6 linked regions of the Homo sapiens genome follow. The protein of the gene in region 6 purifies or fractionates together with the protein of the main gene of each other region. This does not show direct contact. Each region holds a gene or a part of one and is shown on either strand. Other genes may lie near its edges. The genes, in order: LCP1, PRTN3, MNDA, TRIM44, SEMA6B and SMIM8.

Evidence for each region.
Region 1: the proteins of SMIM8 (region 6) and LCP1 purify together in Homo sapiens (affinity purification with mass spectrometry; one large-scale study listed by BioGRID and IntAct). This does not show direct contact.
Region 2: the proteins of SMIM8 (region 6) and PRTN3 purify together in Homo sapiens (affinity purification with mass spectrometry; one large-scale study listed by BioGRID and IntAct). This does not show direct contact.
Region 3: the proteins of SMIM8 (region 6) and MNDA purify together in Homo sapiens (affinity purification with mass spectrometry; one large-scale study listed by BioGRID and IntAct). This does not show direct contact.
Region 4: the proteins of SMIM8 (region 6) and TRIM44 purify together in Homo sapiens (co-immunoprecipitation; one large-scale study listed by IntAct). This does not show direct contact.
Region 5: the proteins of SMIM8 (region 6) and SEMA6B purify together in Homo sapiens (co-immunoprecipitation; one large-scale study listed by IntAct). This does not show direct contact.

Annotation. Positions count from the first base shown.
Region 1 is NC_000013.11:46,124,507-46,129,026, reverse strand, and holds the end of LCP1 (plastin-2), read left to right. Parts: intron 1-1,303; coding exon 1,304-1,436; 3' UTR 1,437-3,104; downstream 3,105-4,520.
Region 2 is NC_000019.10:841,965-846,444, forward strand, and holds part of PRTN3 (myeloblastin precursor), read left to right. Parts: intron 1-1,496; coding exon 1,497-1,662; intron 1,663-1,928; coding exon 1,929-2,070; intron 2,071-4,182; coding exon 4,183-4,413; intron 4,414-4,480. UniProt on the Homo sapiens protein: Serine protease that degrades elastin, fibronectin, laminin, vitronectin, and collagen types I, III, and IV (in vitro).
Region 3 is NC_000001.11:158,836,629-158,842,270, forward strand, and holds part of MNDA (myeloid cell nuclear differentiation antigen), read left to right. Parts: intron 1-3,686; exon of another isoform or gene 3,687-3,768; intron 3,769-5,505; 5' UTR 5,506-5,525; coding exon 5,526-5,642. UniProt on the Homo sapiens protein: May act as a transcriptional activator/repressor in the myeloid lineage. Plays a role in the granulocyte/monocyte cell-specific response to interferon. Stimulates the DNA binding of the transcriptional repressor protein YY1.
Region 4 is NC_000011.10:35,814,729-35,819,737, forward strand, and holds the end of TRIM44 (tripartite motif-containing protein 44), read left to right. Parts: 3' UTR 1-3,279; downstream 3,280-5,009. UniProt on the Homo sapiens protein: May play a role in the process of differentiation and maturation of neuronal cells. May regulate the activity of TRIM17. Is a negative regulator of PAX6 expression.
Region 5 is NC_000019.10:4,545,123-4,550,764, reverse strand, and holds part of SEMA6B (semaphorin-6B precursor), read left to right. Parts: intron 1-492; coding exon 493-642; intron 643-2,319; coding exon 2,320-2,502; intron 2,503-2,591; coding exon 2,592-2,738; intron 2,739-4,295; coding exon 4,296-4,373; intron 4,374-4,490; coding exon 4,491-4,549; intron 4,550-5,642. UniProt on the Homo sapiens protein: Functions as a cell surface repellent for mossy fibers of developing neurons in the hippocampus where it plays a role in axon guidance.
Region 6 is NC_000006.12:87,328,268-87,333,909, forward strand, and holds part of SMIM8 (small integral membrane protein 8), read left to right. Parts: intron 1-870; exon of another isoform or gene 871-1,011; intron 1,012-2,424; 5' UTR 2,425-2,445; intron 2,446-5,642.

The sequences.
Region 1 (4,520 bases), on a different chromosome or scaffold from region 6:
CAAGGAGAAAAAATGGGACCACTCATGCCTGATGCTCTTAATTTAATTTGATCAATAAAGTAAAAGTAAAGTAATTTTAGGAGAGCAGGAGGTAGTAAATGTGGGCTTGGGTAGAGTGAAGAGTGTCTGGTGTAACCATAGTAAGAGGTCACTAGATAATAAACGAGGTGAATAAAAGAACTGCCAGGTAGTAGTGTGGGCTCATTTGAAAATAAATTACAATTAATGAAATTTATCTTCATATATCTACAAATAGAGCAAAAATGTTCTGATGCAGCTATTATCATTCTATGTGAAAATATGGAATATAAATCTCTGGCTACTCTATATTATAGTACCATAAATAAGTACAAATATATGTGGGCAAGAATTGGAATGGAACAAAGAATAAAAAAATTGATGTGTAAGGCTAGGATTTTTTTTTTTTCTGAGACGGAGTCTCACTTTGTTGCCCAGGCTGGACTACAGTGGCACGATCTTGGCTCACTGCAGCCTCCGCCTCCCGGGTTCAAGCGATTCTCCTGCCTCAGCCTCCTGAGTAGCTGGGACTACAGGCGCACGCCACCACGCCTGGCTAATTTTTTGTATTTTTAGTAGAGATGGGGTTTCACCATGTTGGCCAGGATGGTCTCGATCTCCTGACCTTGTGATCCACCCGCCTCGGCCACCCGAAGTGTTGGGATTACAGGCGTGAGCCACCGCGCCTGGCCAAGGTCAGGATATTATACATTTTTCCTCTTTTGTTCCTTGTCAAAATGTTACTGTAGTTGAAATGTAGTCTGCAAACTTTTCCTAGCACACATGTTTATTCAGTTCTGTGACTCTTTCTGCTATGCTGCTATGTAGCCCAAGAGAATACTCCTGGTGTGAGTATCAAAAGTGGCAGCACGTGCTGTAGTGGCTCACACCTGTAATCCCAGTGCTTTGGGAGGCTGAGGCAAGAGCTTCTCTTGAGGCCAGGAGTTCAAGCCCAGCCTGGGCAACATAGTGAGACCCCTGTCTCTACAAAAAAAAAAAAAAAAACTTAACTTAAAAAAAAGGCAGGAGCTGAAGAGGTCTCCAAGGACAAATAATACACTTGATAATGATCACGAGACTAGCCAGCAAGTCTGATGCTTTGTCAGAATCTTTGGTTGAGCCAAAATTTGTCCACAAAAGTGTGAGGATGCTGGTGACTGACTCCAGCCACTGCAGGAGTGAGTTCTGTCCTGACTATGGAACGACTGTGACTGTGACCCTCCAGGGTCCCATTCGTGTTGTGTTTCTCAGGCTCTCCTTATTTTTCCTCTTTTCTCCCTTTTAGATATGCCATCTCTATGGCCCGAAAAATTGGAGCAAGAGTGTATGCCCTGCCAGAAGACCTGGTTGAAGTGAACCCCAAAATGGTCATGACCGTGTTTGCCTGCCTCATGGGGAAAGGAATGAAGAGGGTGTGAGGCCCAATGGGGCTGGGTGGGAGGCGGTGCACTCACTCCTGACTGCCCGGCACAGATGCTCCAGGGATGATTCAAGCCATTCCAAAGTTCAACTTGGTGACACTCTATAAGATTCCAAAAAGCACATATTAGTGCAGCCAAGTAGCCTCTCCTGTATTTAACAAAAAGTGCTTCATTCTTTGCAGGAGGCCCAACCTCCTATATATAGGTTTCTATTCTTGATTTATTTGCTTCTTCGAAAATCTAGAGGAAAAGAAAGAAGTTATTTTCCAGGTACCCTTCTCGCTTTTGCCATTAGCCAAGGATAGAAGCTGCAGTGGTATTAATTTTGATATAATCTTTCAAACCAGCTTCATGTGGCTTCCCTTTTCTTTGTTCAAGATGAGGGCCAGGAGGGGAAACATCACACCTGCCCTAAACCCTGTTCCTGGAGGTCAGCATTTGATCTGTTGCAAGCCCCTCTTTCTGTCCCCTCTTCCTACCCTGCCTCCCTTGACTTTGCTCCTCACACTTTTGGAACCATGCCTTCCGGGGGGGCCCATCTCTTCTGGCCGTCCTTGTCTCTGGGCCACTTGGAGTGTGTGATAAATCAGTCAAGCTGTTGAAGTCTCAGGAGTCTCTGGTAGCCTGCAGAAGTAAGCCTCATCATCAGAGCCTTTCCTCAAAACTGGAGTCCCAAATGTCATCAGGTTTTGTTTTTTTTCAGCCACTAAGAACCCCTCTGCTTTTAACTCTAGAATTTGGGCTTGGACCAGATCTAACATCTTGAATACTCTGCCCTCTAGAGCCTTCAGCCTTAATGGAAGGTTGGATCCAAGGAGGGTGTAATGGAGCATCAAGCCACTCGGCGGCAGCATGGAGCTATAACTAAGCATCCTTTAGGGTTCTGCCTCTCCAGGCATTTAGCCCTCACATTAGATCTAGTTACTGTGGTATGGCTAATACCTGTCAACATTTGGAGGCAATCCTACCTTGCTTTTGCTTCTAGAGCTTAGCATATCTGATTGTTGTCAGGCCATATTATCAATGTTTACTTTTTTGGTACTATAAAAGCTTTCTGCCACCCCTAAACTCCAGGGGGGACAATATGTGCCAATCAATAGCACCCCTACTCACATACACACACACCTAGCCAGCTGTCAAGGGCAGAATGAATCTATGCTGGATAAGAAATGGTGGAACTGCGTTATGAAGAGCTAATTTACTGGACAAAGAATTCCAAAGCAAAACCAGAACAGTATGAATTTGAGCAGGTCTCATAGGTTGAGCAATTTCCCCCTAAACCAACTGAAGGCTAAAAAGCAACAGGCCATTGTGAACCAATGCAAGACGCCCTCTATCATGGTGAAAAGCTCCATCAATGAGGTATCTTCTTTAGTGGTGGTATGTAATGGAACTTAGCCATTTTTCAAAGCAATTGAAATGCATTGCTCTGGATCTGTTCCTTGGCAGTGGACTCAGAAAGCCAACATGTGGCTCCTCCCAGCCCATAACCAGTATTTTTGCTGCTTCTGAATACAAATTGGTTGGTTTTGACTTCAGATTGAACTTACTGTAGCCTCAGATGATTTCCCCCCTCCGCCTCCAGGAAGAAAGAATGTTACTGCCTTAATAAAAAATGAAAAGAGAATGATGCTCAAAATCTTTCCAAATAAAATGTTCCCTATATTAGGTGTCTCTGGATGTTTCATTTTGAAAGTTTGCTGACAGTGTGCTATAAATCGTTCATTCATTCATTCCTCCAACACGTTCGAGTGCCTAGTATGTGCAAGGCACAGTGCAAGGTTTTAGGAATGTGCCTATGAACTAAACAGGCACTGTGCTCAGCTGATGCCTGTCTTAGGAAAGACGGAAGTTAAACAATTAAAATAACAGATGTGACGAGTGATAAAAAGAAGGGCAGGGTGAGACATGAGTTTATGACAGGAAACAGTCTGAGGAGAAATAGTTTAGCTAAAAACTGAAGAATAAATTTCCGTTAGGCAAAGCAGGGAATAAAATTAAAGCTGAGAGCCAAACTCAGAAATACACTGAACTTGTAGGAGTGAAGAGGTGTGATACCTTTCCTCACCTATCATAAGAGTCACGGCCAATACTATGACAAAAGATGGGTAACAAGAGAAAAGGGTAACATATTTCTTTCATCAAAGTTTTACATGACATGGGAGCTTTTAGAAATGAAAACCCAAAGATCCAAGGAAAACTGTTCATTTTTATGCTTAGATTTAATGCAGAATGAACGGCCAGGCAGAAATGTGATTGGGCAAAAGGCTGTGATCTAAGGCTAATAAATGGAAGGGGAAGCCCAGCAAGGCCTGTGTGTTCCGATTCTTCTTGGCTGCAGTCTGTAGCATTTTTTCCTCCAGGGATCAGGGCAGGACCCCCCTGGAATGAGGGTCTTATTACCTACTATCAGGCAAGGTAGGTCAGAGAATTTCTTTACCGTCACTGTCTACACAGAAAGGCAGGGGAAGGTTAGAGTAATTTTTCTAGGGTTTTATGGCTTGCTTTGGGGGAAAGGGGTTCTAGTTTCTATGACCCTCCTTGAGAAAGAGGAATTCTGCTTTCTGCGAGTTGCTTCAGGGGAGAAAGAAGAGGAGGAGACAGGAGGGCAGGAGAAGATCGGAGAGGGAGACCTTGTTTCTGAGGTTTCCTTGGAGGCTTTCCAGTCTCCTTTAGTTCAAAGTACTCTGCACACCAAAGTGCCACACTTTGGGGTTTCATTTTTTTCTGAGCCCCAACAAACCCGATCATAAACCAAAGTCAGACTTGGGGATTGGTGCAAAACAATGTCCAGACTGATTCGAGGAGGAATCTTTGGGGTGAGCAGCGCCCGAGATCTCCTCTCCAGCTTGGCGGGGCCTTACTTGGGAAGAAGTGGGGGTGCACTGCGGGGATGCAGAGGAGTTCTGCTGCAGCCAACTTCCTCAGTTAGGCTGCTGTGACAGAGAAGCTGGCCGTCGATTTGGCATGATCACGCTTTGACCTGCAGAGGAGCCACCCACCCACACAGCAGATGGGAAGCTGGGCTTTTGTGCCTAAGCTGTGTGTCCGGGCTTTACCAGCAACTTCTTCTTGGAGGTA
Region 2 (4,480 bases), on a different chromosome or scaffold from region 6:
GATCCGCCTGCCTCAGCCTCCCAAAGTGCTGGGATTACAGGCGTGAGCCACCGCGCCTGGCCCTTTTTTTTTCTTTTTTGAAACGGAATCTTGCTCTGTCGCCCAGGCTGGAGTGCAGTGGTGCAATCTCAGTTTACTGCAGCCTCAGCCTCCTGGGGTCAAATGATTCTCCTGCCTCCGCCTCTTGAGTAGCTGGGATTACAAGCACACACCACCACACCTGGCTAGTTTTTGTATTTTTAGTAGAGATGGGGTTTCACCACGTTGGTCAGGCTGGTCTCGAACTCCTGACCTGAGGGGGATTTTCAATGCCTCAGTTTGTTCATCTGCAAAATGGGTCTCTTTGTTGGCTGATTTTTTTTTTTTTTTTTGCTTCTTTTTTTTTATTTTGTTTTGTTTTGTTTTTTTGAGATGGGGTCTCACTCAGGCATGAGCCACTGCGCCCAGGATTTTTTTTTTTTTTTTTTTTTTTTGAGACAGAATCTCACTCTGTTGCCCAGGCTGGAGTGCAGTGGTGTGATCTCGGCTCACTGCAACCTGTGCCTCCTGGGTTCAAGCGATTCTCCTGCCTCAGCCTCCCAGGCAGCTGAGATTACAGGTGCGAACCACCACACCTGGCTAATTTTTTTTTTTTTTTTTTTTGAGACGGAGTGTCATTCTGTTGCCAGGCTGGAGTGCAGTGGGGCGATCTTGGCTCACCACAACCTCCGCTTCCTGGGTTCAAGCGATTCTCCTGCGTCAACCTCCGGAGTAGCTGGGACTACAGGCACGTGCCACCACGCCCAGCTAATGTTTGTATTTTTAGTAGAGACAGGGTTTCACCATGTTGGCCAGGATGGTCTCCATCTCTTGACCTCAGGTGATCCACCCACCTCGGCCTCCCAAAGTATTGGGATTACAGGCGTGGGCCAACCGCACCCGACCAATTTTTCTGCTTCTTTAAAAACATTTTTTTAAATTTTGTTTTAGAGACAGGGTCTTGCTCTGTTGCCCAGGCTGGAGTGCAGTGGTGTGATCTCAGTTCACTGCAGCCTTGACCTCCTGGGCTCAAGCGATCCTCCCTCCTCAGCCTCCCAAGTAGCTGGGACGACAGGTGCACACCACCATGCCTGGCTAATTTTAAAATTTTTTGTAGAGATGGGGTCCTCACAATTTTGCCCAGGCTGGTCTTGAACTCCTGAGCTCAAGGGAGCCTCCTGCCTCGGCCTCCCAAAGTGTTGGGATTACAGGCGTGAGCCACTGCACCCAGCCACCTGGTCTGCGTCTTAAAAGCCTTCCTGACTCTCAGGACTGAAAGCTGCCACCAGGGCGCCTTTGGAAATCGTCGTAATTATAACCCCCCCGGCCTGGGCGCTGAGTCCTTCCCACCAGCCAGCAGGCACTGACCGGGTTGCAGATCGGGAGACGGAGGCTCGGAGAGGCCCAGGGGCTGCTCTGCCATCCCCCCTTTCCCTGCAGCCTGGGGGCTCCCTGACGCCTGGACTCCCCCCCTGCAGGTGCTGCCCGAGCTGCGGAGATCGTGGGCGGGCACGAGGCGCAGCCACACTCCCGGCCCTACATGGCCTCCCTGCAGATGCGGGGGAACCCGGGCAGCCACTTCTGCGGAGGCACCTTGATCCACCCCAGCTTCGTGCTGACGGCCGCGCACTGCCTGCGGGACATGTGAGCGGCCGCCTCCACACCCCTGTCCGCCCGCCCCGCCCTCTTCCTCCAGCCCTGGCCCGGCCACTGTCCCTCTGCCCGGGGAGGACCCAGCTAAGCCCCGTCTGCAGACCCCAGGCCCCGCGCGCGTGGGCAGTTCTGGGGGGAGGCCCGGGGCAGGGTCGCCGAGGGAGGGGTCTGGGGCTGCACCGCGGCCTCGGGAAGGGCCGGCTGTGGGCGGCGGCGAGTGTCCAGGGCGCCGAGGAGTGACCACCCCACCCCCGCAGACCCCAGCGCCTGGTGAACGTGGTGCTCGGAGCCCACAACGTGCGGACGCAGGAGCCCACCCAGCAGCACTTCTCGGTGGCTCAGGTGTTTCTGAACAACTACGACGCGGAGAACAAACTGAACGACGTTCTCCTCATCCAGGTGGGCGGGCAGGGCCGCGAGGGCTCGGAGGGGCACGGCCAGAGGGCTCCGGGACCCCCATTCCTGCAGCCAGCATTCATTGAGCACCCACTGTATACCGGGCCACGACCGAGGCCGCTGCAGCCTGGGTCCAGTGGCACTGGCCGGGGGAGACCGCTCCTTGGACACCAGGCCACTCCTCCTCCCCGCCTCTCCCCCGCCCGCGCCTCTCCCCCGCCCGCGCCTCTCCCCTGCGCGCCTCTCCCCCGCCCGCGCCTCTCCCCCGCCCGCGCCTCTCCCCCGCCCGCGCCTCTCCCTTGCCCGCCCCTCTCCCCTGCCCGCGCCTCTCCCCTGCATGCCTCTCCCTTGCCCGCCCCTCTCCCCTGCCCGCGCCTCTCCCCTGCGCGCCTCTCCCCTGCCCGCGCCTCTCCCCCGGCCGCTCCTCTCCCCCGCCCGCGCCTCTCCCCCGCCCGCGCCTCTCCCCTGCGCGCCTCTCCCCTGCCTGCCCCTCTCCCCTGCCTGCGCCTCCGCCCGGTGTGCTGTTCCCCCAGAAAGCCAGGTGCCCTCGCCTCCTCCGGCGCCTCCCCTGACCTCACTGGAAGTGGCGAGGACAGCCACAGCCCTCCCCGATTCACTGTTCTCCACTGAACCGCGTGCTCCTCTCATTCATGGGGCCCTCCTAGCCTCCTCCCACCCAGAAAGATCAGCTCCCCAGGGCAGAGGATTTTTGTCTGTGTTGTTCGTTATTGGACTCATGTGGCTTAGAACGGGACTGGGCATACAGGTGGTGCTCAGTAAGTGCTTGGGGCTGGGCACTGTGGCTCACGCCTGTACTCCCAGTACTTTGGGAGGCTGGGATGGGAGGATCACTTGAGGCCAGGAGTTTGGGAGCAGCCTGACCAACCTAGTGAGACCCCATCTCTATAAAAGACATTTTTTTTTTTTTTTTTTTTAGACAGAGTCTCACTCAGTCATCCAGGCTGGAGTGCAGTGGTGCAATCTCGGCTCACTGCCACCTCTGCCTTCCAGGTTCAAGTAATTCTCCTGCCTCAGCCTCCTGAGTAGCTGGGATTACAGGCATGCACCAACACGCTTGGCTAATTTTTGTATTTTTAGTAGAGACGGTGTTTTGCCACGTTGGCCAGGCTGGTCTCGAACTCCTGACCTCAAGTGATCTGCTCTCCTCAGCCTCCCAAAGTGCTGGGATTATAGGAGAGAGCCACCGCGTCCAGCCTACAAAAGAAAAATTTAAAAATCAACCGGGCATGGTAGCACACGCCAAGCCACTCATGAGCTGAGATGGGAGGATCACTTGAGCCCAGGAGGTTGAGGCTGCAGTGAGCTGTGATCATGCCACCACACTCCAGCCTCGGCGACAGAGCAAGACCCCATCTCAAAAAAAAAGTGCTTTGAAGATGAATGAATGGGCCAGGGGCGGTGGCTGTAATCCCAGCACTTTGGGAGGCCGAGGCGGGCGGATCGCCTGAGGTCAGGAGTTTGAGACCAGCCTGATCGATATGGCAAACCCCGTGTCTACTAAAAATACAAAAATTAGCTGGGCGTGACGGCAGGTGTCTGTAGTCCCAGCTACTTGGGAGGCTGAGGCAGCAGAATTGCTTGAACCCAGGAGGCAGAGGTTGCAGTGAGCCGAGATTGTGCCACTGCACTCTAGCCTGGGCAACAAGAGCGAAACTCCATCTCAAAAAAAAAAAAAAGAAAAGAAAGAAAGAAAGAAAACATGAATGAATGGCCGGGCACTATGGCTCACACTTGTAATCCCAGCACTTTCGGAGGCTGAGGAAGGCAGATCACTTGAGGTTGGGAGTTTGAGACCAGGCTGGCCACCTCACCCAATGGGATGGCTCCGGGAGGTTCCAGTGAGCCGAGATCACGCCACTGCATTCCAGCCTGGGTGGCAGAGCAAGACTCCATCTCAAAAGAAAGAAAGAAGGAAAGAAAATGAATGAATACAATAGTGACAAATGGGACAAAGGGGGTCGTGGGGCCCAGGCGGAGGGAGCGGCATCCGCGGCGTTTTGAGGTGGTGGGTGTGGTGGGTGTGGTGGGAGGGCGGCCCGGGCGGCCACCGTGACCTGGAAGCAGCGTCTCACCGCCGCCTGCCTTCTGCCCCAGCTGAGCAGCCCAGCCAACCTCAGTGCCTCCGTCGCCACAGTCCAGCTGCCACAGCAGGACCAGCCAGTGCCCCACGGCACCCAGTGCCTGGCCATGGGCTGGGGCCGCGTGGGTGCCCACGACCCCCCAGCCCAGGTCCTGCAGGAGCTCAATGTCACCGTGGTCACCTTCTTCTGCCGGCCACATAACATTTGCACTTTCGTCCCTCGCCGCAAGGCCGGCATCTGCTTCGTAAGTAACCGTGCCCCCACCCCGGGCACCGGGCTGCCATGAGGGGAGGAGGGCGGCGGCCAGGGTT
Region 3 (5,642 bases), on a different chromosome or scaffold from region 6:
CAGTTAAAGTTCTGTCAGTATTATTCACATTTTCAGAAAACCAACTCTTTTTTTTATTGATTTTCTTTATTATTTTTCTAATCTCAATTTTACCTCTAATTTTTATTTTTTCCTTCCTTTTGATGGCTTTTGGTTTAGTTTGTTCTACTTTTTTAAGTTCCTTATGGTGTAAAGTCAGATTATTGATTTGAGAGTCTTCTTTGTAAATGTAGTTGTTTAAATCTGTAAATTACCCTCATCACCATATTCTTTGCATTTAATGAAATGATATGTTGTGTTTCTATATAATTTCTCTAAATATGGATTTAAATTTGACTTGTGATTCTTTGTACATGTTTCATTGTTTGTGTTGTTTATTTTCACAGGGTCATGAATTTTCTAGTTTTCTTTCTGTTGATTTCTACTTTTATTCCATTATGATAAAAAAATATACTCTGTATGATTTCAAACGTTTAACATTTATTAACACTTGTTTGGCATCCTAATTTGTGGTATATGTTGGGACAATGTTCCATATGTTCGTGTGAAAAATGTGTATTCTACTGTTGTTGGCTTTACTGTTTTGGATATATCTGTTAGATATAATTGGTCTATAAGTGGTCTATAATGTTTTTCAATATTTATTTTTTCCAAATTTTCTTCTGTCAGATTGTTCTACCTATTATTGAAAGTGGAACATTAAAGTCTCTTACTATTACCTTAGAGTTGTCTATTTCTCCCTTCAATTCTGTAAATGTTTCATATATTAGGAGCCCTGATGTTTTGTGCATGTATGTTTCTAATTGTCATATCTTCTAGGTGAACTGGCCTTTTTAACACTATGTAATATTCTTTGTCTCTTATAACACTTTTTGACTGTTATTTTTATTTTATCTGATCCTAGTATAGCAAACTCTGCTCTCTTATTTAATATTTCAATGGAATATCTCTTTTATTCCTTCACTTTCTATCTTTGTCCTTACATCTGTAAAATGAGCCTCTTGTATGCAACATATACTTGGATCCCCTGTTTTTAAATTCATTGTGATATATATGTATATATAATTTTAATATGCTTTTTGATTAGTAAGTTTAAACCATTTACATTTGAACTAATTATTGATAAGGAAGAACTTAGAACTTATTGTTGCCATTTTTTATTTGTTTTCTGTATGTCTTAATAGGTTTTTGTCTCTTAGTGACTTCTTTTTGTTGATTTTTTTCTGTAGTGAAACATTTTTATGTTCTTCTATTCCTTTGTGTACATCCTACAGATATCTCTGTGGTCATCATCAGGTTGCATATGATATTCTAAAGTTATAGCAATCTATTTTTAACTAATAACAACTTAACTTCAATCATATGCAAAATGTTTACTCCTTTACAGCTCCCCAACACATATTTTATGTTAATATTACAAATTGCATTTATATAATATGTACCAATTAACATTGATTTATAAATTGTTTTGCTTTCACATTTTAAATCCTATAAAATAATAAAAAATGATTACAAATCAAAATAGCAAAAGTCATGTTTCATGTTTATGTATATACTTACCTTTCATCAAGAACTTACATTTTTGTATGAGTTTGAGTTACCATCTAGCATCCTTGTGTTTCAGCTTGAAGAAATCTCTTTAGTATTTCTTTTAAGGTAGATATAGTGGTAATGAAATCCTTCAGCTTATGTTTATCTGGGAATGTCTTAATTTCTCTCATTTATGAATAGCAGGTTTCCCAGATATAGCATTTTTGATGGACAGACTTTTCTTTAAACACTTGAAATGTATTGTCCCACTACCTTCTGGTCTACAAAGTATTTGCTGAAAAATGTGCTCATAATCCTATTGAAGATTTCTTGGATATAATGAGTTGCCTTTTTCTTGCGCTTTTTAAATGATTTTCTTTTCGTCTTTGAGTGTTGGTAATTTGATAATAATGTGTCATAGTGTAAGTTTCTTTGAGTTTATCATAGTTGCAGCTTGTTTGGTTTCTTATATCTGTACATTTAGTCTTTTCTCAAATTTGGAAAGTTTTCAGTCCTTATTTACTCAATAATTTTGTTATTCCTTTCTCTTTTCCATCACCTTTTCAGACTTACATAATGCATATATTGTCCCACTTGATGAACTTTATAAGTTCTGTTCACTTTCCTTTATATCTTTTAAAAAAGTTTGTTCTTCAGCCTTGATAATTACACATGACCTGTCTAAAAGCTAACTGATTCTTCTGCCTATTGGTGTGGGCTGAGGAACCCCTCTAGTGGATTTTACAATGCAGTCAATGTGTTTTTCAGCTTCAGAATTTATGGAATTTTTTCTGGTAATTTCTATTTTTTGTCTATTCTCATTTTTTATTAATCATTTTCCTGATTTTATTTAGTTGTCTCTACCTATTTTCCTTTAACTCATTTATCATATTTAAGAGTGCTGTTTTAGTCTTTGACAAGAAAGTCTGAGGGCTGTGTTTCTTTAGAGAAAGTTTGTGGAGATTCATTTTTTTCTTTAAAATTGACCATGTTTACCTGTTTCTTTGTATACCTTTTGTTGAAAACTGGACATTTGTAAAAACAGCCCCCTCTCAACCATTGTTAACTGGCACCATATTCAGGGGAGGACTTTCACTCTTCAGCTAAGTATGAAATATAAACGTTCTCTGAGGCCTATATGGACGTGTGTCTTGCCTGGGCTTATGTGTGTGCATTTTTTGTAATTCTCTCATATACACACTGCTTTTAATCTGTAATTTCCCTAAGAGCCACACCTGCCTCTTTTCATGACCTTAGATGTTCTACTGTATTCCTCTATCCATAATCTCTTGCCTTCTGGCACCCAGGGAGTAGCAGATCCCATGAAGCTCTCACAAGCTGGAGCACCCACCACTACTTTTTGCAGCCTCAAATCTGACATTTAAACTATGCCACCATTTCCATCAATGCTCCAAGTCATGTGAAGCAGTTACTAGTCCCTCAAGGAACCTACAGAGAAGCTATAATGTTGCAAAGCAGTTCCACACTTTTCCTTCTATTCCAAAGGAAGAATGAGGAATTAGGAAGTTTCCTCCTGATCACGTCACACCATTCAAGGGAGAAAGTTAAACAGGGACAAAGAAAAACACCTAGAAGTTTTCCACTATTTTGAATGTGGCTTAATCTTGGTTTGGAATTTCCTTTGTTGCAACCAATTCTTAACAGCTGAAAACATTAGTTTGGTTCATAAATTGTTCTTTATTTGGTGTTTCCATGGTATAATGAAAGTCTGGAACGTCCTTGTCTGCAATCTTGCTAATGTCACTCTCAGTGAGAAGAGAACAATTTTTTAAACCATAACATTCAAATAACATTTTGACCAGATACAAAATTTTAGTTTGAAAAATATTTTTGCTTGAAAACTGATTCACAGCACTTCACCTGAAACCCCTGGGACAACTCTGATTTTTAATTCATTTTTTTAGGGGGGGATTTTAGAAAGACTACTTAATGCATACATTGTATGTAGGCACTGCAAGTGTCCCAGTAGAGGTAATATCAACATCCTAATATCAAATGCATTAAGAGTTCTTCAACAAATCATGCCACTATTCACATTAAAGTGAGATGAATAAGGAAGATTAAAAATAGCCACTGTATTAGTTCCTTCTCACGCTGCTATGAAGAAATACCTGAGACTGGGTAATTTATAAAGAAAAGAGATTTGATTTACTCACAGTTCCGCACGGCTGGGGAGTCCTAAGGAAACTTACAATCATGATGGAAGGCACCTCTTCACAGGGTGGCAGGAGAGAGAATGAGTGCTAGCAGGGGAAATGCCTGATGTTTATAAAACCATAGATCTCATGAGAACTTGCTCACTATCACAAGATGATATTTCAAGATGAGATTTGGGTTGGGACATAGCCAAACCATATCAGCCACGTATTACTTCACATTATATCTCTAATTTGCAAGATGATTTTGCTACCACACTTCCCTGCTAACTCTCATCCCTTCCCAAGCCCCCAAACCGCACAAATCTTTTCATCCTTCAGTATCTTCTTAGGTTTTAAAATTGCAGACATATAATTATGGATCAGTACTATGTAAAAATTACTTTCTTAACCTGCTGCAGACTGTTCAATCAGATTATTTAATCTTTGTAGGTGTTCTACTCAGTATTTCTGGAAGATTTTATCATTTTGCTTTTAATATTCTTTGGCTTTACTATATGTGCCCATGTGTGAAATTTCTCTTTATCTGATAGGTTTAAACACAGGAACACTCATGTTCTCCCAAAAGAGAACAATTTACAGCCCTAAGAATTTGGACACTCTAATTATATAAAAGTTGCACAAACACATGGTCACCAACCTAAAGGAATACCTATAAATTTAAACAGAAAATTGGAATATACGTTAGGAACTGAATGCCCTTAGGTAGTACACAAGGGGTTAAAGAGGCACACATAAGTGAGAGTGGGACCACAACAGCTCGCAGAAGATAAAGCCTCAATTAAGCATTAAAAACTCTAAGGAAGTATTCAGAGGAAGAAAACTGGGAATGCTTTCCCAGATAGCAGGAAGGGAATTAGCAGTAAGAAGACCTGAAAAAGAAAGACATATTGTGTATTTCTAGAGCATAAGGTATAAGAAATTCAAAAGTAACAGACACACACAAAAAGAAAGATACAGTTTATGCAAGGCCTTTCAAGTCATGCTGAGTAGAAATCTATACTAATAAAAATCAAAACTCATTGAAGGATTTCAGGAAAAATAGAGTCATGTCTTTATCCATAAAGAAACCTACTTGGTTGTCTGACAGAAACCTTTTAGTAAAAGTAAGACTAGTTGGAGGTAAATAATTGACTGTAAAAAACAAATGTGCAAAAAATAAATGCTGCAATTCCACACTAGAGAGCAGATAGGAGGATGGCAAAATGACAATTTTATAGATGCATAGGACACAGAGAACAAGTTCTAAGCCCCAGGGAGAAAAAGTGCTAACGAGAGCTGATTAGGGAGAGCCAAGAAGGACTAGAGTCCATTCCACAACTCAGAACTGTAGTGCTGTGGCAGAAGGTTATTCACATAAGGTGAGTGGCTGCAGCCCATTTATACTTAGGCCACTTTGGTCATAGTGGATGACCAGGAAGAATCAGGGAAGAATCAGGGAAGAATCAGGAACCAAGAGGTAGGCATTGAGGGATAGGCTCAGGCCCCAATAAAATATCAGAAGAGGAACCAGGGACTTTGACACCACAAAACCCATACTATAAATACTGCAACAATTACCTGTTTCCAAACATCATTTCACCACATACACCTCTGTCCCAACTTATCAACATTAAAAGGGAAGAACTTCACTGAACCTCCTAATAAAGCAAGTCTTGATCCATTGTTCACAGTGACATATCTGGTAACTTAGTCCCTTTTTCTTATACGCATCCAAGGACAACATTTTGGCCTGGGACACTCACTCACAAAAGCATATCTCATTTTTTAAAATTGTCTGCATAAATGTGTAATGTTGTGTGTCATTTTTACTTTATAGGCCAAGCTATAACATCAGAAATGGTGAATGAATACAAGAAAATTCTTTTGCTGAAAGGATTTGAGCTCATGGATGATTATCATTTTACATCAATTAAGTCCTTACTGGCCTATGATTTAGGACTAACTACAAAAATG
Region 4 (5,009 bases), on a different chromosome or scaffold from region 6:
CACTTGCTATAACATTCTCTGTCCGTCTTTTTTCTTTTATGTAAATACTTTTGTGACTTCATTGTAACCAGCATTTTGTAATACTCTTAACAGCAGAGGGGATTAAATCATGATTCACTTCTGAACAGTACAATCAGCAGTAGGAAAACGAGGAGGGAGGGAGAGGGAAATTGTCCACCACTTCCCAATGATAATGCCTGGCTCGGACCCCAGATTCACATCATACTTGAAGTTCATAAATTCTGGGCACTGCTCAGCTTGAGGAGGCAGGCATTGCTCCTTCATATTTCAGGGTGAGACAAATGCTCTGTTGAAGCCATGCCACTACAGGATACATTCACCTCTGCTTGCTTTCCTCCCTAAGCCAGAGTGTAGTTAAACATTTATATGTCCCAGGCCAGGAGATCAAATTAAGAGGAGGTTAGCTACTTTCCCTGGCTCTTAAAAACATTTGAGTCCAAGTATGGTTCTCTGGCTTGAGGGTGGCCATTTGTTGCCTCACTGTTTTTATTAGGACATCTGGAGATTAGAGGTGTTAATTGGAAGTAACTTTTCTATATTTGGTTTCTCTCCACACATTATGAGACCTTTTAGACCCAGTTGGATGGCTGTATCCTAGTATGAAATTCAGCTTCTAAGTAGGAAGAACTATGATAGAGGAACAAGATTGCTCTTTGACTTGGTGATAGTAGGGCAATAGGGAGTGTCAGTAGGGTAGTTTCAGGTGGGGAGGATGACAAACCACTGATAACAATAAAAATGGGTATTTCTCAACACTCAAGCCAATTTCCCATTTGATAACAAGTAGGTTCTGATCTATTTTCCCCAAATTAATATTTTCCCTGGAAGATTCTGACCTGTCTGATCAAATAAAGGCATTCCTCTGAGAGTATACCTAGCCCACTTGTGGCCAAATTATACTTGACTGTTATGTACTCAAAACAAGCTTTCCTGTTAATCTCTTTCTCTTACCTCTATTATGAGGACAAGACGTGGAAGAATTAGGTCACCGGGGCATCTGCCATTGCATATGTTTAAGTGGTATAAAGAAGCCAGGATTCCTAGAATGGTCTGTCTTTTGCCATTTCTGGGACAATGAGAAAATCCATCTGGAGTGTTTATGCCCCTCTGAATAGCCAAGTCATGGGCTTGTTTGCTTTCAGTCACTGCCTTCAGAAAAAGACAATTTTACAATGACTTACTTCTAATAATCACTGAAACAGCCTCATGAGGACATGCAAAACTGCTGTCTATCTTCAGACCTGGCCCATTGTCAAATGGCAGACTTGCAGAGCAAATAAGGGACCTGGCCTAGTTCACAAGGCAGTCAGAAGTGATCCAAAGTTCAGGCTCCCCCTCCCTTTTATCACTCCACCCTGCCTCTACTCCTCCGCCTCCTATTCTTCCGGCCTTTCCATCTGGAAACCATGAGCCTCATGGATTCCAGGCACAAATTCTCAGATTTCAGATGTTTGGGAAATTTCTCAGCTTGGGTCATTCTTCAAGAGTAAGAAATTGAATTTGTGAGAAAAAAAAACAGCTGAGACTGTTTCACAGAAGAGAAAATAAATAAGGTGTGGTGCGTATCCATCCTCTTCCCAACTCAGCTCCAAAACCACACACAATGTCTAACTTCAAAAAGAGTATTTAGATCCCCCCTGGGAAGGAACAGAATGGAAAAACAATCTCCACTCATAAAAACACTTTTCTGCCTTCTACAGTATAAACACAACTGGCATCAGATAATACAATGTAATTGATTTTATGTGTGTAATTGGGGAACAGAAGGGTCTCTAGAGGGTAGACCTAAGAGTAATGGAATGGAGTGAAAAGTAAAATTTAGACTAAATTGTTGGGAGGAAACTGTTAACATTGTGAACCACTTGACCCTAGTGTTGCATCTTCACAAAAAAGAGCAATGTGCCGTCTTCTGTCTTTGGAAAATGGGACAAGCTTGCTCCTGATACTAGGTTTTAGAAGCATACAGACTTGGTTTTAGTACTGGCTTTGTTCTTTACTAACTCTGAACAATTAAATGAGCAGATGGTCTACAGGGCTTAGTACAGTGCCTGACACATAGTAAGCACTTAGAAATGGTAGCTTCTGACTGTTGTGCTGGAGTCCTGTTAGAGATTCAGTAGATGGAGCCACCTTCATGTTGCCCCTCACTGAGCTGCTCTGCTCACCTCTAGATGCTCCCCATGGCTGTTTCATAGCCCTCTGTACCACATCCCCATGTACTTTTTCATATCAACGGTAAGTACCTCAAATTACCGTATGTATTTACTTGTTCATAAGGTTGATGTCTGTAACTCTTTGAAGGTTGTATTAGTCGTTTGCTCCTATATTACTAATGATGACAAAGTCGCCTGACAGAGTAGATGTTCAAATTTATGGACTTAAACTGACTGACATCTTGATAATGCCCATATCCAGAGGTACTCCAGATATTATATCTTCATGCAGAAAACTGAAAGATACCTTTAGCTACATCTACCCCAGAATGAGTGTCCAAAGCAGGTGGCACCACCAAAAGGCACCTTCTTTTCCCATGAAAAGAGGGAAGAGAGTTGAGAAGCCTCACTCCCATCCCTGCTCTGCCACTGACAAGTTGTGTGGCATTTGGCACATCATGTTCTCTCTCTACATGCGCCTAAAATGACGGGTAGGGTCAGAGACATTGGAGGATCTCTCTTTTCTCTTCCACCTCTAACACGGTAAGATCTTAGCAAAGTAAAAAGGACAGTGATAACAGAAAAATTGTTCCTCTAAGAGTCCCAAGTCATCTTTTTTCTCTCCGTGTGTGTTAGCATTTGTGTGTGTCTGTGGGTGTGTATGCATGTGTGTGGAAGCTATACAAGGAAAGCTGAATCCATATGTAGACTTCATGGAGACTAGTACTGCTCCAAATGTGCACAAGCCATGTGATATGGTTTGCCTCTGTGTCCCCACCCAAATCTCATGTTGAAATGTAATCCCCAATGCTGGAGGTGGGACCTGGTGGGAAGATTGGATCATGGGGGAGTTTTCTCATGATTTAACAACATCCGCCCTTTGTTGTCATGATAGTGAGTTCTTGTGAGATCTGGTTGTTTAAAAATATGTGACACCTCCCCCCACCTTCCTTCTGCTCTGGCCATGTAAAGTGCTCACTCCCCCTTTGCCTTCCACCATGATTGTAAGTTTCCTGAAGCCTCCCTAGAAGCTGAGCAGATGCCAGCATCATGCTTGCTGTGCAGCCTGCAGAACTGTGAGCCAATTAAACCTCTTTATGAATTATGCAGTCTCAGGTGTTTCTTTATAGCAGTGAAAGAACGGACTAATACACCACGAAAAAAAAAAATGTACCACAGTCAAATAAACTGGGAAGCAAAACAGTGGGCCAAACAAAGTTAAATAGGTTTCTTCCCTGTAGAATTTCTGGGAGCTTTTAATATGTTCACGTGCATTGTAGAGCTTTCATGTAACAATTTTCTAGTTTTCTGGCAGTTCTGTGTAACAATTTTAGGAAACACTGATTTAGAGATGAATCTAACTCTTCCTGAGTTAACTGTTGAGAGAACAAAGGCCCAAAGAGATTCAAGGATTTGCTTAAGGTCACCTGGCTATTGGGAAAGCTGAGTTCTCCATATTTGACCACTGCATCCCAGAAGAGAATGTCTGTTTAGTGACTCAAGAGCCCACATTAGAACATTCTAGGAGACATCCCAAGGTTTCTCCCTTGATTCTAAAGGGAAGAGTTTGATAGGCTGCAATTCTCTGTCTCAGGACTTGCACAGACATTAACGTTCAGCATAGTGCAAGCTTCTTTGTCAGTGTGGTGCCGTCGGTAATATGGGGTGCAGCGCTGACAAGCTATGGTTCTCTCTCTCTTCCTCTCTCTCTCTCTCTTCTTTCCTCCCTCCCTCCTGGTTCTCTTTTCCAGGTTACATTCCAGGCTCACTATTGTCATACTCTTGAGTGATAGTAAAGAATAAAACAGCACTGACCTGCTTGATTAAGATCTCTACCGCATCGATATACTGATCACCAGGGTATTCAGGTGCCCAGTAAGCCTTGTGCATGGGAAGCCTCTTGACTCAAACGAATGGTGACTGGGAAACTGAGGTGGAAGGCCACTAAAGGTGGCAGTTTGTATCTGGCCTCTTAACAGTGTTCACCATGAAACATTCTCAAATGCCTTCCCTGATATGTTAGCCTGAGGCATCAGAGGAACCGTCAGGTGCCTTGTGGGGCTATCAGTGTGTGACAGGCAGCAACATGGGGGTGGGAGGTGTAGTAAGAGTAGGTGTGTGTGTGCAACACCAGAGGGAAATATAGGCATATCAGGAAGAATAATGACTTGGCACCCCTCCAAACTGCTATTGTTTAGATATTAGGTCAACATTTATTTAGAGAAGATGGAGGCAGGTGTGGGGTAGGGAGCTGGAGTCTGTGTCCCCACCTGCTTACCACACTCACAGAAATAAAAGCCCGGGCCCTCTTTTTAGAAGACCATTTAGGGACCATCTGTTGTTATTCCAGCCTAACCTTTTTGGGGTCTCACCCTATCCACTTCCAAATGGCTTTCAAATTATTTCTTCCAATCCCATACAATTACCTCCCTGAAAGGAGTTCTTGGAAGTGCAGTTTTGTCCATCTCATTAGTGAGGTTTTTGCAGCACTGCAACCCCCTCCCCCAACAAACTGGTCATATGTTGTGTGTGTGGTGATCAGGCTGGTGATTTAGTGAGGAGCCCACTCCTCATCTAGAAAGTATGCGTGACACCCAGATCACAACACTCCCCATGTGGTCACCGGCTGTCTCGTACAGAGTTCATGAACTTCCAAGTAAGAAGAGACACAAGAGTGGTATTTTCTTAGGAGATTATTAGACCCACCAGAAGGTAACAAGAGCATTTAGCAATGATAAAGAATAAATATCCCCACTTACTGGGGCAGCTCTCTTTCCTGTCTCTTCCTCATCCCTTTCCTCAGCTTCCTCCTACTCCTCTCCCAGAAATAAAGGA
Region 5 (5,642 bases), on a different chromosome or scaffold from region 6:
GATGAGGTCCTGATCCCCAGGGCCGAGGGCTGGGGCTTCCGGGTGGTTATTTAGCTGATGCTGAGTTCAGCTGTACCCGTTATACAGTTGGGAAAAACTGAGGCCTGGTGTGGTGGCTCACGCCTGTAATCCTAGCCCTTTGGGAGGCGGAGGTGGGCAGATCACCTGAGGTCGAGGGTTTGAGACCAGCCCGACCAACATGGCGAAACCCTGTCTCTACTAAAAATACAAAAATTAGCCGGGCGTGATGGCACGTGCCTGTAATCCCAGCCACTCGGGTGGCTGAAGCAGGAGAATCGCTTGAACCCAGGAGGTGGAGGTTGCAGTGAGCCAAAGCACTCCAGCCTGGGCGACAGATTGAGACTCTGTCTCAAAAACAAAACAAACAAAAAACCTGAGGGTCGTTGGGCAAAGCAATGGGTACCTCTGGTGAATCAGGCCCCTTTATGAGAACCTTTACGTTCGTCCTGACCACACCCTTGTCACCCCCAGGCCCGGGTGCTGCGCAGCCCCCGGGATGCAGTACAATGCCTCCAGCGCCTTGCCGGATGACATCCTCAACTTTGTCAAGACCCACCCTCTGATGGACGAGGCGGTGCCCTCGCTGGGCCATGCGCCCTGGATCCTGCGGACCCTGATGAGGTCGGTCCTGGAGAGGCAGGGCATGGCGAGGGGAGACAGGATGGGGTAGATGGAGGGTGAGAGGATCCAGATGCTCAACACAGATGAGCCCATGGCTTCCGGCGCTGCCCAGAGAGCTGGAGACACAGAGAGACAGAGAGGGAAAGATGGAGAGACACTAGGAAAGAGAGAACAAAGAGAGAGACAGAGGGATCAAGAGGTGACAGATGGGGCTGGGCACGGTGGCTCATGCTTGTAATCCCAGCACTTTGGGAGGCCGAGGCTGCCAGATCACCTAAGGCCAGGAATTCGAGACCACCCTGGCCAACATGGAGAAACCTCGTCTCTACTTAAAATACAAAAATTGGCCGGGCATGGTGGCTCACGCCTGTAATCCCAGCACTTTGGGAGGCCGAGGCAGGCGGATCACGAGGCCAGGAGATGGAGACCATCTTGGTTAACACAGTGAAACCCCGTCTCTACTAAAAATACAAAAAATTAGCTGGGCGTGGTGGCAGGCGCCTGTAGTCCCAGCTACTCAGGAGGCTGAGGCAGGAGAATGGCATGAACCCGGGAGGCGGAGCTTGCAGTGAGCCAAGATCACGCCACTGCAGTCCCGCCTGGGCGAAAGAGCGAAACTCCGTCTCAAAAATAAAATAAAATAAAATACAAAAATTAGCCAGGCGTGGTGGTGGGCGCCTGTAGTCCCAGCTACTCGGGAGGCTGAGGCAGGAGAATCACTTGAACCCGGGAGGCGGAGGTTGCAGTGAGCCGAGATCACGCCACTGCACTCCAACCTGGGGCCAGAGGGAGACTACACCTCAAAAAAAAAAAAAAAAAAAAAGAGGTAGACAGACAGACACACACCAGGAGAACAAAGGGGGAAAGAGACAGAGAGACAGGGAGAGAGACAATCAGAGACAGACAGACACCCAGAGAGACAGAGATAGGGAAGAGAGACAAAGAGAGAAAGAGACTGAAAGATACACAGACACACATACATATCAGGAGAAAGCGGGGCTGGGCACAGTGGCTCATGCCTGTAATCCCAGCACTTTGAGAGGCTAAGACGGGAGGATCACTTGAGGTCAGGAGTTTGAAACCAGCCTGGCCAAATGGTGAAACCCTGTCTCTACTAAAAATACAAAAAAAAGAAAATCAGCTCGGTGTGGTGGTGTGCGCCTGTAGTCCCAGCTACTTGGGAGGCTGAGGCAGGAGAATCGCTTGAACCCAGGAGGCGAGATCGAGCCACTACACTGCAGCCTGGGCAACAGAGTGAGACTCTGTCTCAAAAAAAACAAAACATAAACTTGCCAGGCGTGATGGCGTGTGCCTGTAGTCCCTGCTACTCAGGAGGCTGAGGCAAGAGAATTGCTTGAACCCGGGAGGCGGAGGTTGCAATGAGCTGAGATTGCGCCACTGCACTCCAGCCTGGGTGACAGAGTGAGACTCCATCTCAACCAAAGAGACAGGGCTGAGGAGAGCCTGGTTTGGGGTTATGTTTCAAAAAAGGGCGAGTGTGCCCACGTGCCTGTGTAGTCACGCATGTCCCCGGCATCCATGCACACACGCATTTATTGCTGTCACATGTGTTGGTGTGTCAGTGTCTGTATGCACCCGTGTAACTATGGCCATGCCCGTGTTGGTGGCATGTGGTGATATGGGGCCAGCCTGACCCTCCCCTGCCCTGTCCCCCAGGCACCAGCTGACTCGAGTGGCTGTGGACGTGGGAGCCGGCCCCTGGGGCAACCAGACCGTTGTCTTCCTGGGTTCTGAGGCGGGGACGGTCCTCAAGTTCCTCGTCCGGCCCAATGCCAGCACCTCAGGGACGTCTGGGCTCAGTGTCTTCCTGGAGGAGTTTGAGACCTACCGGCCGGACAGGTAAGTCTGGGCAAAGGTGGGAAGGGGTCGCCAGCAGGAGGGGAGATGGGCTGAGATGCGCTCAGCCTCACCACTCTGCTTGTCCCCAGGTGTGGACGGCCCGGCGGTGGCGAGACAGGGCAGCGGCTGCTGAGCTTGGAGCTGGACGCAGCTTCGGGGGGCCTGCTGGCTGCCTTCCCCCGCTGCGTGGTCCGAGTGCCTGTGGCTCGCTGCCAGCAGTACTCGGGGTGTATGAAGTGAGTGTCCACCCCAGGCCAGCCGTGGGCGGGAAGCAAGGGAGGATGGGCACAGGGAGGGACAGCTGGGTTCCAGTCAAAAGCCCAATGATGTCCTGGTCATTGAGCTGGGCAGAGGGCATGGCCCGTGCAAAGGCCCGCGGGCAGGACCACTCCTGGTGTGTTGGAAGAACAGCAAGGTGGCCGGTGTGGCTGGAGCACAGTGAGCAAGGGGGAGTGAGGGAGGAGGGGAGGACGGGGAGGGGATGGGAGAGGACGAGGCAGTTTGTGCAGAGCTTTGTGAGCCTCGGGGAGGACTTGGGCTTTGACCTTGAAGGAGATGGGAGCCATGTAGGGTTGCAGGCAGAGGAGGGACTGGCCCTGACTCAGGTGCTTACAGGTGCCCTCTGGTGGCTGCTGCCAGGAGGAGACTGCAGGGGAAGGAGAACCAGGGACCAGGGTGGAGGCTGTTTCCCCGTCTCTAAAATGGGAGGAAAGCTAGGATGCATGCCAGTGCTGGCACACGCCTGCACTCCATGTGAGCCGTCAATGCGGAGGACCCTGCTTCCTGCCCGCCGTTATTGCAACAATGACCCAGTAGCTCCGAGTCCAAGGGCACAGCCTCTGGCACGATGCCTGGGCTCCCATCTCAGCTCTGCCACTTGGGCAAACATTTACTTTCTGGAGCGTCAGTTTGCTTATCTGTAAAGTGGGGAGTGAACAGTGCCCTGCACACAGATTTGTTCTAAGGACTCCAGAAGTTGCTATTAAGAAGAGGGACTGGGCTTGGTAGCTCACGTCTGTCATCCCAGCACTTGGGAGGCCAAGGCAGGAGGACTCCTTGAGCCGAGGAGTTCGAGACCAGCCTGGGCAACACAGCATAGTGAGAGCCTGTCTCTAAAAAAAAAAAAAATGCAAAAATCAGCTGGGCGTGGTGGCACACACCTGTGGTCCCAGCTACCCAGAAAGCTGAGGCAGGAGGATCACTTGAGCCTGGGAGGTTGAGGCTGCAGTGAACTATGATCATGACACTGTACTCCAGCCTGGGTGACAGAGCATGACCCTGTCTCTTAAAGAAAAAAAAAATTAAATTTTAATTTAAAAAAATTTTTTTAATTTTAAAATAAGAAAACGCCAGCCGTGGTGGCTCACACCTGTAATCCCACCACTTTGGGAGTCCGAGGCGGGTGGATCACTTGAGGTCAGGAGTTCAAGACCAACCTGGTGAAACCCTGTCTCTGATAAAAATGCAAAAATTAGCTAAGTATGGTGGCGCGTGCCTGTAATCCCAGCTACTCGGGGGGCTGAGGCAGGAGAATCGCTTGAACCCGGGAGGCGGAGGTTGCAGTGAACCAAAATCCCGCCACTGCACTCCAGCCTGGGCGACAAGAGCGAAATTCCATCTCAAAAATAACTAAATAAATAAACAACAAGAGCGAAATTCCGTCTCAAAAATTAATTAATTAAAATAAAAATAAAGAGGCAGGTGCTTGGAACAGGGCCCACAGGTCACCATCACCATTGGGGTTGTGTAAGTGACTTGGACACTTGTCCCATTCGGTCCCTGGTCTGCTCTAGGAACTGTATCGGCAGTCAGGACCCCTACTGCGGGTGGGCCCCCGACGGCTCCTGCATCTTCCTCAGCCCGGGCACCAGGTACTGCGGGAGAGGGAGGTGGGTGGAGGGTGTGTCAGACCCGCCCATGATCCCAGATCCCCCTGATCTCTGACTGTGAGAGGGGCCTCTGCTGACGGTGCCTCCTCTCCCCATTAGAGCCGCCTTTGAGCAGGACGTGTCCGGGGCCAGCACCTCAGGCTTAGGGGACTGCACAGGTGAGTTGGGGGGACGGCAGGCTAAGACCCCCATCCCCCACTACCATGGGGGAGGGGAGGGAGGAGGCTGGAGGACCCTCGAATCCTCTGGGAGGTGGGTGGGGAAACTGGACTCCATCAGAGAACTTTAGAAAGGCATGGGGTGGGCCGGGCGCGGTGGCTCACGCCTGTAATCCCAGCACTTTGGGAGGCCAAGGTGGGTGGATCACGAGGTCAGGAGATCTAGACCATCCTGGCTAACACGGTGAAACCCCGTCTCTACTAAAAATACAAAAAATTAGCCGGGCGTGGTGGCGGGCGCCTGTAGTCCCAGCTACTCGGGAGGCTGAGGCAGGAGAATGGCGTGAATCCGGGAGGCAGAGCCTGCAGTGAGCCAAGATCACGCCACTGCACTCCAGCCTGGACGACAGAGCAAGACTCCGTCTCAAAAAAAGAAAAGAAAGGCATGGGGTGGTCTCATCTCATTTATTGGGGAGGGAGATAGGGGAAGAACAGAGACACCAAGAAACAGGCAGGCTTTGGCAAGGACGAAGAGACAACAGAAGGCAGACAGACCAACTTCAACAGGACAGAAGGGGCCAGGCGCGGCAGCTCCTGCCTATAATCCCAGCATTTTGAGAGGCCAAGACAGGACGATCACTTGAGGTCAGGAGTTTGAGACCAGCCTGGGGAATATAGTGAAACCCTGTCTCTAAAACAAAAACCCAAAAATAATCCAGACGTGGCAGTGCATGCCTGTAGTTCCAGCTACTTGGGAGGCTGAGGCGGGAGGATCGCTTGAGCCCAGGGAGGTGGAGGCTGCAATGAGCTGTGATCAGGCCACTGTACTCCAGCTTGGGCAACAGAGTGAGAACATGTCTTTTTTTTTTTTTTTTGAGACAGAGTCTTGCTCTGTCACCCAGGCTGGAGTGCAGTAGTGTGATCTCAGCTCACTGCAACCTCCACCTCCCGGGTTCAATTGATTCTCCTGCCTCAGCCTCCCAAGTAGCTGAGATTACAGGCGCACACCACCATGTCCGGCTAAAATTTGTATTTTTAGTAGAGATGGGTTTCACTTGTTGGCCAGGCTGGTCTCAAACTTCTGACCTCAGGT
Region 6 (5,642 bases):
CGTCCAACTTTGTTCCGTTGCTCGTGAGGAACTGCGTTCCTTTGGAGGAGGAGAGGCACTCTGCTTTTTAGAGTTTCCAGTTTTTCTGCTCTGTTTTTTCCCCATCTTTGTGGTTTTATCTACTTTTTGTCTTTGTTGATGGTGATGTACAGATGGGTTTTTGGTGTGGATGTCCTTTCTGTTTGTTAGTTTTCCTTCTAACAGACAGGACCGTAAGCTTCAGGTCTGTTGGAGTACCCGGCCGTGTGAGGTATCAGTCTGCCCCTGCTGGAGGCTGCCTCCCAGTTAGGCTGCTCGGGGGTCAGGGGTCAGGGACCCACTTGAGGAGGCAGTCTGCCTGTTCTCAGATCTCCAGCTGCGTGCTGGGAGAACCACTGCTCTCTTCAAAGCTGTCAGACAGGGACATTTAAGTCTGCAGAGGATACTGCTGTCTTTTTGTTTGTCTGTGCCCTGCCCCCAGAGGTGGAGCCTACAGAGGCAGGCAGGCCTCCTTGAGCTGTGGTGGGCTCCACCCAGTTCGAGCTTCCCAGCTGCTTTGTTTACCTAAGCAAGCCTGGGCAATGGCGGGCGCCCCTCCCCCAGCCTCACTGCCGCCTTGCAGTTTGATCTCAGACTGCTGTGCTAGCAATCAGCCAGACTCCGTGGGCGTAGGACCCTCCGAACCACGTGCGGGATATAATCTCGTGGTGCGCCATTTTTTAAGCCCGTCGGAAAAGCGCAGGATTCGGGTGGGAGTGACCCGATTTTCCATGTGCCGTCTGTCACCCTTTTCTTTGACTAGGAGAGGGAACTCCCTGACCCCTTGCACTTCCCGAGTGAGGCAATGCCTCGCCCTGCTTCGGCTCTCACATGGTGCGCGCACCCACTTACCTGCGCCCAGTGTCTGGCACTCCCTAGTGAGATGAACCCGGTACCTCGACTGGAAATGCAGAAATCACCCATCTTCTGCGTTGCTCACTCTGGGAGCTGTAGACCGGAGCTGTTCCTATTCAGCCATCTTGGCTCCTCCCCTCTTGTTTTGTTTTTAGACAGAGTTTCGCTCTGTCGCCCAGGCTGGAGTGCAGTGGCACGATCTCGGCTCACTGCAACCTTCACCTCCTGGGTTCAGGCGATTATTCTGCCTCAGCCTCCCGAGGAGCTGGGATTACAGGCCCGCACCACCACACCCAGCTAATTTTTGTATTTTTAGTAGAGACGGGGTTTCACCATATTGGCTACGCTAGTTTCAAACTCCTGACCTCAAGTGATCCTGACCTCAAGCAATCTACCCGCTTCGGCCTCCCAGAGTGCTGGGATTGCAGGCGTGAGCCACCCTGCCCGGCAGGAAAGATACTTTTTTAGAAAGTATGTTTTACCTTAAAAACAACATATATATAATCAATTTTTAAAACTTAAGTGATTATAATTTTTTTTCTTAAATATTGTAATATACATGCAAAGGCCTTTTATCAATTCAAGAGTAAGATGGGGTGAGGTGGTGAAATATTGGTGGGCTGGTAATTGGGAGACCTAGGTGATCGCACCCTCCTGGTAAGGACATCTCCTTGGGTCTGGGTTTCTCAGAAAGGGGTTTAGAAGGGGGAGTTAGACTAAATGGTGAGTATGAAAGTAGCTACCATTCATTGAACATCTGCATCTTTTAAAATGTGTCATCTTAATTAATGCACACATTTAGTACCTATCTATGCAATAGATAGTATTGCTCCTTTTATAAAGGTAGAAACTGAGAATCAGAGTTGTCACTTAAAGACACACAGCTTATAAGTAGCAAAGTGAGAATCTGAGGTTATGCTATGTTTCCCCTCAAGCCATGAAGTCCTCTGATTCTATCCCAAACTTGTTTAAACTAATTTAAATTATTTTTAAGGTTTTCTGCCCCAAAGTTCAAGTTAGTTTCTTAAGTATTAAGATAATGTGGCATGTGAAACTATAAAAAAGTGTATTATACTTTCATTAAAATATTTTGCCCATTTTATAATTCTCTGTCTTTTAAAGGAAATGCTTTCATTATTAATAAGGTTCCTGCTCGTTAACATTTTATGATTCTGGTCATTTTGTTTTGTCTTCTATTGAGGTGCTTATTTCTAAAATGTATGTTTGAAGATTAAGTGTTTCCCTCAAAGTAATTCTTATATTCTTTATATCTTAGTCTAATTTGCATGTACAATATATTAATAGGTAGTCAAGTATTCTGGAATAACTCCCTGAGCAAGAATTTTGCTAAAGAAGGGAAAATCATTCAAAAATGACTAGTCCTGACTCTCGGTGTAGGACCATCTGTACAGCCTCTCACATTGTGTGTTATTAATTTCAGGGGCTTACTATTCTTACACTTTGAGATGTAAATGACTCTCATGGAGTTGGGTAAACGGGCAGTCCTTTATCTTTGCTTCTTCCTTTTTCCATTGCACGCTTCCGTCACAGGAGGATGGACAGAAGAAAAAGGTAAAGAACATTTTACCAGAGAGAAACAAATGAAGCAAATACCCCTTAGTTTAGACCTTTTTTACAGGCACCTGTGAAATGTTCTACTCTCCTCTATTTTTTTTTTTAAGAAAAGATAAATAACAGTTTCTTAATCATGCATGGAAAAGGGAACAAGAAGTGGGTGATGGAAAAATGAAGAAGAAATAAGAGTGGGGCAGATTGCACAGCCAGGGGTGCCTGATTAATTATTTTGCAGGTAGGCCCGCACACAAATTAATCACAAAATTACTTAGCCAAGAGCAGTGTAATGCCAGGTTCCCAGCATCCTTGCTAATCTATGTGTATGTATGTTTTATGTCATTACTGTTTTAACACAGTAAATGAGGTTTTTAAATGCAGCTTAAAAATAAATAGATCCTCAAAGTGATAATAACTAGAGATTGGTCAATATCATATGTAAGTAAATGAGTGACAGCTGCAGTGGAAACAAAAAGTAAGAGAAGAAGGTGGAGAAACTAGTGGGAAGACTAAGAAAGTTCTGATGGAAGTGTGCTGGACATTAACTGGTTTTGTCTTAGGTGAGTGGTAATGTCAGAGTAAGTTATTGCCATGCCTTGACTTTATGATTAGTTCTGCAGCTTTTAAAATTGAAACTTGTATTAGTTTTGTACTTGAAAACAGCTAGTCAACTTAAACTTCAGGATTAAAAGTTTACTTGTTAAAATACAGATTTGTTTTCCCCAAAACAATTTATACATGTGTGAAGAAATGACTAAGGTTTTGCATTCTACCTGTTTTATTTATTCCTGGCACATCTTGAATTTATTCGTCAGCCATACTTGTACAGCTCTGTGGGCTGGCATGTGAACAAATACAGAAGAATTTTCTCGTATGTAGAAAAGATTTTGTTTTTGTTTTTGTTGTTGTTTTTAAAATAGTTATATATAACAAATTCTTGGCTGCTAAGACCCTTTCTGGTCTCAGTAATCTGAATTTTTTTTAACAAAGTATAGATGGTTGTTAAAAAGTCTTAGTTTGATAGATGGTGTAAATAAGTTCATGGAATTTTGGGAGAATTGTTGTATCATCAGTGACTGTGGCTCATAAAGGAGAAGCAGCAATAAAACTGAGCTGTTTTATCCCACTTCTAATAAAAGAATGATAAATAATAGAAAATGTTACTCTCATACTTTCCAGAAAGTGTCAGTAACAGTGGAAATTGTGGTATATTAAATCTTTTAAAAATATACATGTGAGTTTCCAGTCAAAATATTCTGTCATTTCTAGCAGAGTTTAACATAAACAGTGAATTATTAAGGTAAATGTGAGTGTCTGGGAGTTGCAATATAACAAATACTACCCTGATTATTTTATTGATTCATTATAAAGGAAATATAGGTTCTGCTAAGGAAAAAAGGAGATCAAGCAATCTTACAAATAAAATTAAGTCATCACAATTAGTGTTAGAATGCTATATAACTATATAGTTTTTTACAGACATATTTCATATAGGTTGAATTTCATAACACTCAGCATCACTGCATCCATTTAATTTTAAAATACTGACATTTTTGTTAGTTGTAACTAGTCTCTCTCTTTCTCTTTCTCCTCCTCTCCTCCCCCCCCATATATGTATATATATATATATAAATGACAGCAGATCCCTTCTGAATAGATTAATGCCCTCCCTGAGGGGATGATTAACTCACTCCACACCTGAAGTCCAAAATTATATACAGTATATAATTTTATATACCCCAGGAGTGGAGTAATAATAATATATAATGTAAATTGTATATTACATTATTGTTTAATATATAATTTATTATGTTAATAAATTACATATAATTAATATATAATTATATGTAACATAATTTTATATAATTTTGGACATCAGGTGTGGAGTGAGTTCATCCTCCTCAATTCCTGGCACATTATCATCCACACAAAGTATATGTAATAAACTATGCTCTGAGGACCCTTCTGTGCTCTGCAATATGAACTTCTATACCCATCTTTTCCATCACCTTGGAAAAATGCTGTTTATGTCAGTTTCTGGTTACAATGACTTTTACCTTTGTATATTTGCTTTTTCAGGCCTTTGTAGTATTTTTATCTAATGCCTCAGTTTCATGTAGTGGCACACTCTGAGGCTGAGATTCAGCCCTAATAACATGGCCATGGGCTATTTTCTTCCTAATGTTCCTTATAGGTTTGGCTGTTGACAGACTATAATACTGCTTCCACTTTAATGACTGCTTCATTTTGCATTTTCTTTTCCTATCTTAGCCCATTTGTGTTGCTATAAAGGAATACTGAGGCTGGGCAATTTATGAAGAAAAGAAGTTTATTTGGTTCATGGTTCTGCAGGCTGTACAGGAAGCATGGTGTCAGCCTCTGTTTCTGGTGAGGGGCTCAGGTTGCCTCCACTCATGGTGGAAGGTGATGGTGATCTGGCATGTGCAGAGATCACATGGTAAGAGAGGAAGCAAGAAAGAGAGGGGAGGTGCTAGGCTCTTTTTAACAACCAGCTCTCCAGGGGACTAATAGAGTGAGAACTCACTTGCTCCCCACGCTCCCCGAGGAAGGGTATTAATCTATTCATGAGGGATCCACCCCCATGACCCAAACACCTCCCACTAGGCCTCACCTCCGACATTGGAGGTCAGATTTCAACGTGAGGTTTGGGAGACAAATACCCAAACTATAGCACCCACGTTTATAGTCAAACAAGTTTTTAGCACAGGGAGAAACATCACTGACACCTGTTATAGGCACCTGGTGGCCAACATTTGTTACTTAAATTCTAAATACCTTTATAAACACCATCGTGGCTAAGAGAAGAAAAATGAAACACCAGCAGTTCTCATTAGAAGAAAAAAATGGTAGTAGTGGAAGCAGTAGATTGCTGCCACAACAAAGGAGAAATAGCAAAGGAATTTAACACCACTACCCCAACATTGTTCACATTTTTGAAAGATTGAGCCAAGATTGAAGAGAAAGTTTAAAAAGGGATTCTGGGACTAAAGCAAAAGTGAATGTGAGGTCCCTTTTATCACTGTTTTTGCATGATATCAGGTTCATGCAAGAAATGGGCATGTAACTGTGCTGTAGAAAGCATTGGATTTTTGCCAACCTTAGGAATTGTGTTAGTCTCTTCTTGCGTCATTATAAAGAAGTACCTGATGCTAGGTAATTTATAAAGCAAAGAGGTT